Linked DNA regions of Homo sapiens: region 1 is linked to region 2. The links come from fine-mapping of genetic effects on gene expression. A gene starts in region 2. The other region holds a variant in brackets. All regions are shown on one strand. Distances are from middle to middle. Region 1 overlaps DLEC1 (DLEC1 cilia and flagella associated protein). Region 2 holds the start of DLEC1 (DLEC1 cilia and flagella associated protein).

Region 1 (2,917 bases), 62 kb after region 2:
ACATTCCAGTCCCCTGCACTTCTAGGGATTTCCTGGGATTTTCCAGAGCACAGTTAGAAGCTTACAGACCTCAGCCAGCCTCCTCATTTGATAGAGGAGAGACTGGAAGGGGCAGGGCTTCCCCAAGGTCATACGGCTGATGGGTAGCGGCATCACATCTGATCCCTCTTGTCTAGTTTTCAGTCTGTGGTGTTCTCCCACTGTGAAGAATAACTATGTTTTATAATGGAAATAATTGCCAATGTTATAGTATTGTAAGATAATTCCCTCTCTACAGTTCTCTGCACTCTATTCTTTTGAGCTCTCAAAAATAATGTTGGGATTTGGGGTTTGTTAGATGGTCTCAGATTAGGGGACGCAGAGCTGCTGAAACCCAACCCTAGACTACAGCCACCCCCAGAGCTCCAAGGGAGATGCACATGAGCAACAAAGACAAAATAAAGCAAAGTGGCTCCTTACAGGGACAAGTGTCCTCTCTCAGTCAGGGCAGGAAGAATGGAATGTAAAGAGCCCTCCCCAGATGGGGACACTTTTCTTCCTGCTCTTTCCCTTCCCCTCTCCCTTTGTGTGTGTGCCTGGCATGGGAGGAGGAGCAGACCGGGGGCGGGGTGGGGGTGGGGGCGGGTAAATGAGGCTGAGCCTGCAGTAGGGGACAGAAGGAAGGGGTGGGGGAAAGACCACGTGGGTGCAAAGGAGAAATCTGGCCACAATAGACTCTCCCCTCCCCTAATCTAGTGACCTGGTGGCTTTCCTCAGTTGAAGCTGCTCAGAGGGCTACCCCCCTAGTTTGGCTCACCAGCTCTCCTCTGGCTCCCCAGCTCTCCCCATTTTCCCTGGAGCACCTCCCTCCGCCTTCTATCTCTCAGATCTGGGCCAGGGCATGGGGCCCTCTGACTTATGTATTCCTTTACTTGGAGACTCAGTTTCTATGCTCTTAATCCTGAGACTCTTGTGGCTGTGGTCCCCCACCTGCTTGCCTGTTTCTGGATCCCAGATGGCTCTTGGAAGAGCTGGGGCAGCTTAGGAGTGACTTTGGTTAGGCATGGCCAGCCCCCAGTTCCTCTGCAATTCCAAGTGTCCTCAGTGCTCATCCTCCTGAGTGTTCTCCGGGGCAGGTGTCTCCCTTCGACATTGAGCCTTCGAGTGGCCAGCTTCACTCTCTGGGGGAGTGCAGGGTGGACATCACCTTGGAGGCCCTGCACTGCCAGCATCTGGAGACCGTCCTGGAGCTGGAGGTGGAAAATGGTGCCTGGAGGTAAGGGTGCCGTGGGAAGAGCCACTACAACAAACTATGCATATTCGTGATGTATTTATCTATATTATATATTTATCTAGAGATGTTCTGGATTTAAAACTATTGAATCCAGAAAATTAGTATTCTATAAAATTTGTAAATTACAGAAAAGAAACTCAAAATGACGCATAATCCATTCCCTAGGGATGATCCACTGATAATATTATGTATATATCTTTCTAGGGTGTGTGTATTAAAGAGATGTAAATTAGTATAACTACTTTCGAAACTACGTTAGCATCAGCTAGTGTTTGCCCTTCTGAGTATACTCCCAGGGAAATCCTTATACATGCACAGTGGGAGATGTGTGCTCATGTTGGAATGCTCAGACTGGACTGTTCCTACAGGAAAAACTAGAAAAAACCACTGTCTGTCAACAGGAGAATGGACATTTAAAAAGTGTGACATATTTAAATAAGCACATACCATTGTATTCTGGGAGGAACATGCTAGAGGTTTCAAAGGTATT[G/A]GTAGTATTCCTTTTTTTCTTCTTCATTCTCCCTCCGCTCCCCCACTTCCCTCCTTTTCTTTCTTTCTAGTGGAAAACTTCTCATATATATAAAAACAGAAAGAATAGTATAATAAACCTCCACATACTCTTTCCTCCCTTCAATAATTGTCAACTCACTGCAAGTACTGTTTCATCCATATCCCCTATCTCCTTCTCCCCACTCCTTCCCAAATTATTTTCAAATAAAATATTCATTTTCCTGCTGGGCATGGTGGCTCACGCCTGTAATCCCAGCACTTTGGGAGGCCGAGGCAGGCAAATCACGAGGTCAGGAGTTCGAGATCAGCCTGGCAACATGGTGAAACCCCGTCTTTACTAAAAATACAAAAATTAGCCAGGTATGGTGGTGCTCGCCTGTAGTCCCAGCTACTTAGGAGGCTGAGGCAGAAGAATCACTTGAATCCTGGAGGCAGAGGTTGCAGTGAATGAATATATATATATATTCATTTTCTTAAGCTGGCTGGTGATAATATTTTGTTTCTAAAGTTGTGTGGAGGTAGTACATAGATGTTGTTTTATTATTCGTTAAACTATATATATGTTTAAACTGTATATATGTTTTATACTCATTTTTGCATATATTTGGTGTTTCATTGTAAAAACATTTAAATGCTCATTTAAATCTCTGTGGATGCTCTTGAATTATCCTCCAAAAAGACTGTGTCATTTTATACTTCTGCCTACAGTGTGTGAGACTAGCCATTACCCCACACTTTCACCATGACAAATGTTGTTGGACTTTGTATACTTGACCATCTGACAGTTGTTCAAATGTCCCCTCCTGTGATAACAAATACAGGTCTAGGTATGAGTCTTTGCATTGGTCCTTCAGGGCAATTTGCGGGCATTAGATGTGAAGGCTAAGTCTGCCTGCAGCTCAGGGGAAGGGCTTTCTATTAAGTCTGTGCTTATTTCCTTTCCTTTTCTGTCTCTGTTCTTTCTCCTGAAAGGACCTTGTATTATCAGAATGTTTACAGTAGCAGGTGATGGAAACACAGACATTACCAACTTAGGCAAAAAAGAGGAAGCATTGGCTCACGTAACTGGGCATTCCCACCTTGCTGAATCCAAGGGCCCAACACTTTTCCCTTTGTCTGGTCTTCTGCTTCCTC
Region 2 (2,917 bases):
GCACATCATCTTGGCCCTGTGATCTCTTACTCTGTGGGAAAGAGTGCGGGGGACAGCCAGAGATGGGCCTCTCAAGCACACAGTCCAGGGCAGGCGGCCCTGGCTTCTCAGCTCTCAGGACAGAAAAGGTCCTGGAAAGGACAAAAGAGAGAGCCAGGCCCAACCAAGAGAAGTAGAAGTGGAAGTAGCCCAGGTGTGTGGGCAAGCATGCTAGCACTCATCTCTGGAAGTGGGTTTCAGGATGTAAGGCAAGCAAACTCAGTGTGGAGTAGAAAGTGGTTGGTTGTATCACCTGTGAGCAAAAGCCATGGTGTGCAAATGACAACAGTCAATGTGATGTTATGCTGCTGCCCTGGACAAATGCAGTCCTCTTTTCCATCTCAGTGATGCTGTCATCACCCCCCTGATTGCACACACAGGATACCTGGGAGTCATTCTTGGTGCCTGTTTCTTACCTCCCATTATCCACCAGCAAGTCTTATCAATTCTACTTTTTGGATCTATCTCCAATCCAGTTCCCTCTCTCTCATCCAATCTCCCTTCATCTCTTTCCTAACTTCTGTGCTAGTTTCCTAACTGAACTTCCTGATGCCTCTTGCCTCTCCTGTCTATTCTCATAGCAATCAGAATGATCTTAGTAAAACAGAGCTGACCATGACATGCCCCAGCTTAAGACCCTTGATGAACCTCCTACTGCCCTCAAAATAAAGTCCAAATTCCCTATTGTGGCCTACCAACCCACTTATGATCTGGCCCTAACCTATCAGTGTCATTCCTCCACCCTCACACTCTTTAAGTTCCACTCCTCCTGAATTTCATTCCGTCCTTCCCACATTTTTAAATATTTTGTAAAGATGGGGTCTCCCTATGTTGCCCAGGCTGGTCTCAAACTCCTGGCTTCAAGTGATCCTCGTGCCTCAGCCTCCCAAAGTGTTGGGATTACAGGTGTGAGCCACCACACACACGCTCTTATTTAGGTACTTTTTTGTTTTTTGTCATTCTACTAACTGTAGTACTGCATTGTGGTTTTAATTTCCACTTCTTTGATGACTAATGATGTTCAGTCTACTCCTTCTTTGAAATCTCTGCTTGGTTTTCATTTGTTCCAAGAAGTAATCGCTCCTTCTACAGACTAAGTTCCTGTCCTCCTTTGTAGTTCCATGACAACCAATATTTATCTCCACCTTGGCCTTAACCCACTAAAGTACAGTTGTTTTACTTTTACCTCCACACCCACCGCCATCATCACAAACACACACATACACGACTGTGCACTTCCTGAAGGCAGAAGCAGCATCATACTTCTTTGGTATCTTCAGCAATCAGCACAGACCTGAAACACAATCTTTACACAATAAATATGATGAGTGAATGAACAGTTGCTTAACAAATTAAAGAATGGATGAAGGTAGGTAGTTAGGTACAAGGTTTTGCAGATAGGCCTGGCTGTGTCAATTAAACCTTTCTTCATGGGTCCTCACACTTAGTAAGCTCACTTTTAAAAGGACAATGCTGAAGACACAAATGTTTACAATGACCACAGCGATGACGGGATCCGAGAGAAAGGCAAGGCGGAAGGGGTGAGGCCGGAAGCCGAAGTGCCGCAGGGAGTTAGCGGCGTCTCGGTTGCCATGGAGACCAGGAGCTCCAAAACGCGGAGGTCTTTAGCGTCCCGGACCAACGAGTGCCAGGGGACAATGTGGGCGCCAACTTCGCCACCAGCCGGGTCCAGCAGCCCCAGCCAGCCCACCTGGAAGTCCTCCTTGTATTCCTCCCTCGCCTACTCTGAGGCCTTCCACTACAGCTTCGCAGCCCGGCCCCGCCGCCTCACGCAGCTTGCGCTGGCGCAGCGTCCCGAGCCTCAGCTGCTTCGTCTGCGCCCCTCCTCGCTGCGCACCCAAGATATCTCGCACTTGCTCACCGGCGTCTTCCGCAACTTGTACTCAGCCGAGGTCATCGGCGACGAAGTGAGCGCAAGCTTGATCAAGGCCCGCGGCAGCGAGAATGAGCGCCACGAGGAGTTCGTGGACCAGCTGCAGCAGGTAACGTGGCGGTGGCGTCGCGTCTGCGGACGGTGCCGGGGTCTCAGCGCTCGGCACGCGTCAGCACCTGCCAGGTGCCAGGCGCTGTTCCAGGATCTGGGGCTGCAGTTGAGAAACAGCCCATCATGCCGAAGTGGGCCCGACATTCTAGTGGAAGGACGCTCTATCCATACACACACATGCGCAAATACCACACATACCACACAACGTGCGGCATATATCTGTAGCACCTGTCTATATTTCTCTAGACACATACGTTATATATTGCATATATCAATGAACGACTGCGGCAGACCGCTGAATAGTTGTTCCATGGAGAGGATAAAGCCAAAAGTCACCCGGCTTTGGGGTGCCTTTGTATCACAAACCACAATCTTGACTGGGCCATTCATGCGCAGATTTTAGGAAGCGTGTCTAGCCTCTAGAACAGCAACTCTGCTTCCTCATCTGTACAAGGAGAAAACCAGCTGACTCGCGGCCTCTGTGCTGAGTCGGCCTCTGCTGGCCACACTACTGAAGACTCCCTTAAACTTGTGGGCACTCCTCCCATACCCGATCCTTTACCCCGGTGTGCTTCCTGCCTCTCAGATCTTCTTCTTCTCCTTTCTGTTCTGTCCTCTACCTGCCCCTTAAGTGACATGCATCCCACGTCGTTAGCTTCAGTCATTCCTTCACTTAACACATTTGTTGAATGTCTGCTGGGTGTCATACTCTGTTCTAGGCAGTGGGGATTCAGCAGTGAATAAAAACGCCAGTGTTCGGGCACACCCACACTCACACACGCAACCTGTCCTCTGTAGCTTTCAACCTAACTGAGGTAGATAGACATTAACAAAATGAATACCTATACAGTATGTGAGATACTTACAGGACCA

The links.
Region 1: its variant is fine-mapped to the expression of DLEC1 in subcutaneous fat (GTEx, PIP 0.96).

What each region holds. Positions count from the first base shown.
Region 1 is chr3:38,099,171-38,102,087 of GRCh38, forward strand. DLEC1 (DLEC1 cilia and flagella associated protein) reads left to right here. Exons shown (of 37, transcript NM_007335.4): 19 at 1,116-1,255. Among named protein-coding and RNA genes, the nearest start is that of ACAA1, 36 kb to the right of the region's middle. The variant G/A (reference allele first, on the strand shown) is at 1,764.
Region 2 is chr3:38,037,595-38,040,511 of GRCh38, forward strand. It overlaps DLEC1 (DLEC1 cilia and flagella associated protein), which reads left to right and starts at 1,614. Exons shown (of 37, transcript NM_007335.4): 1 at 1,614-2,042. The coding sequence starts at 1,632. RefSeq lists enhancers at 1,679-1,888, 2,179-2,408.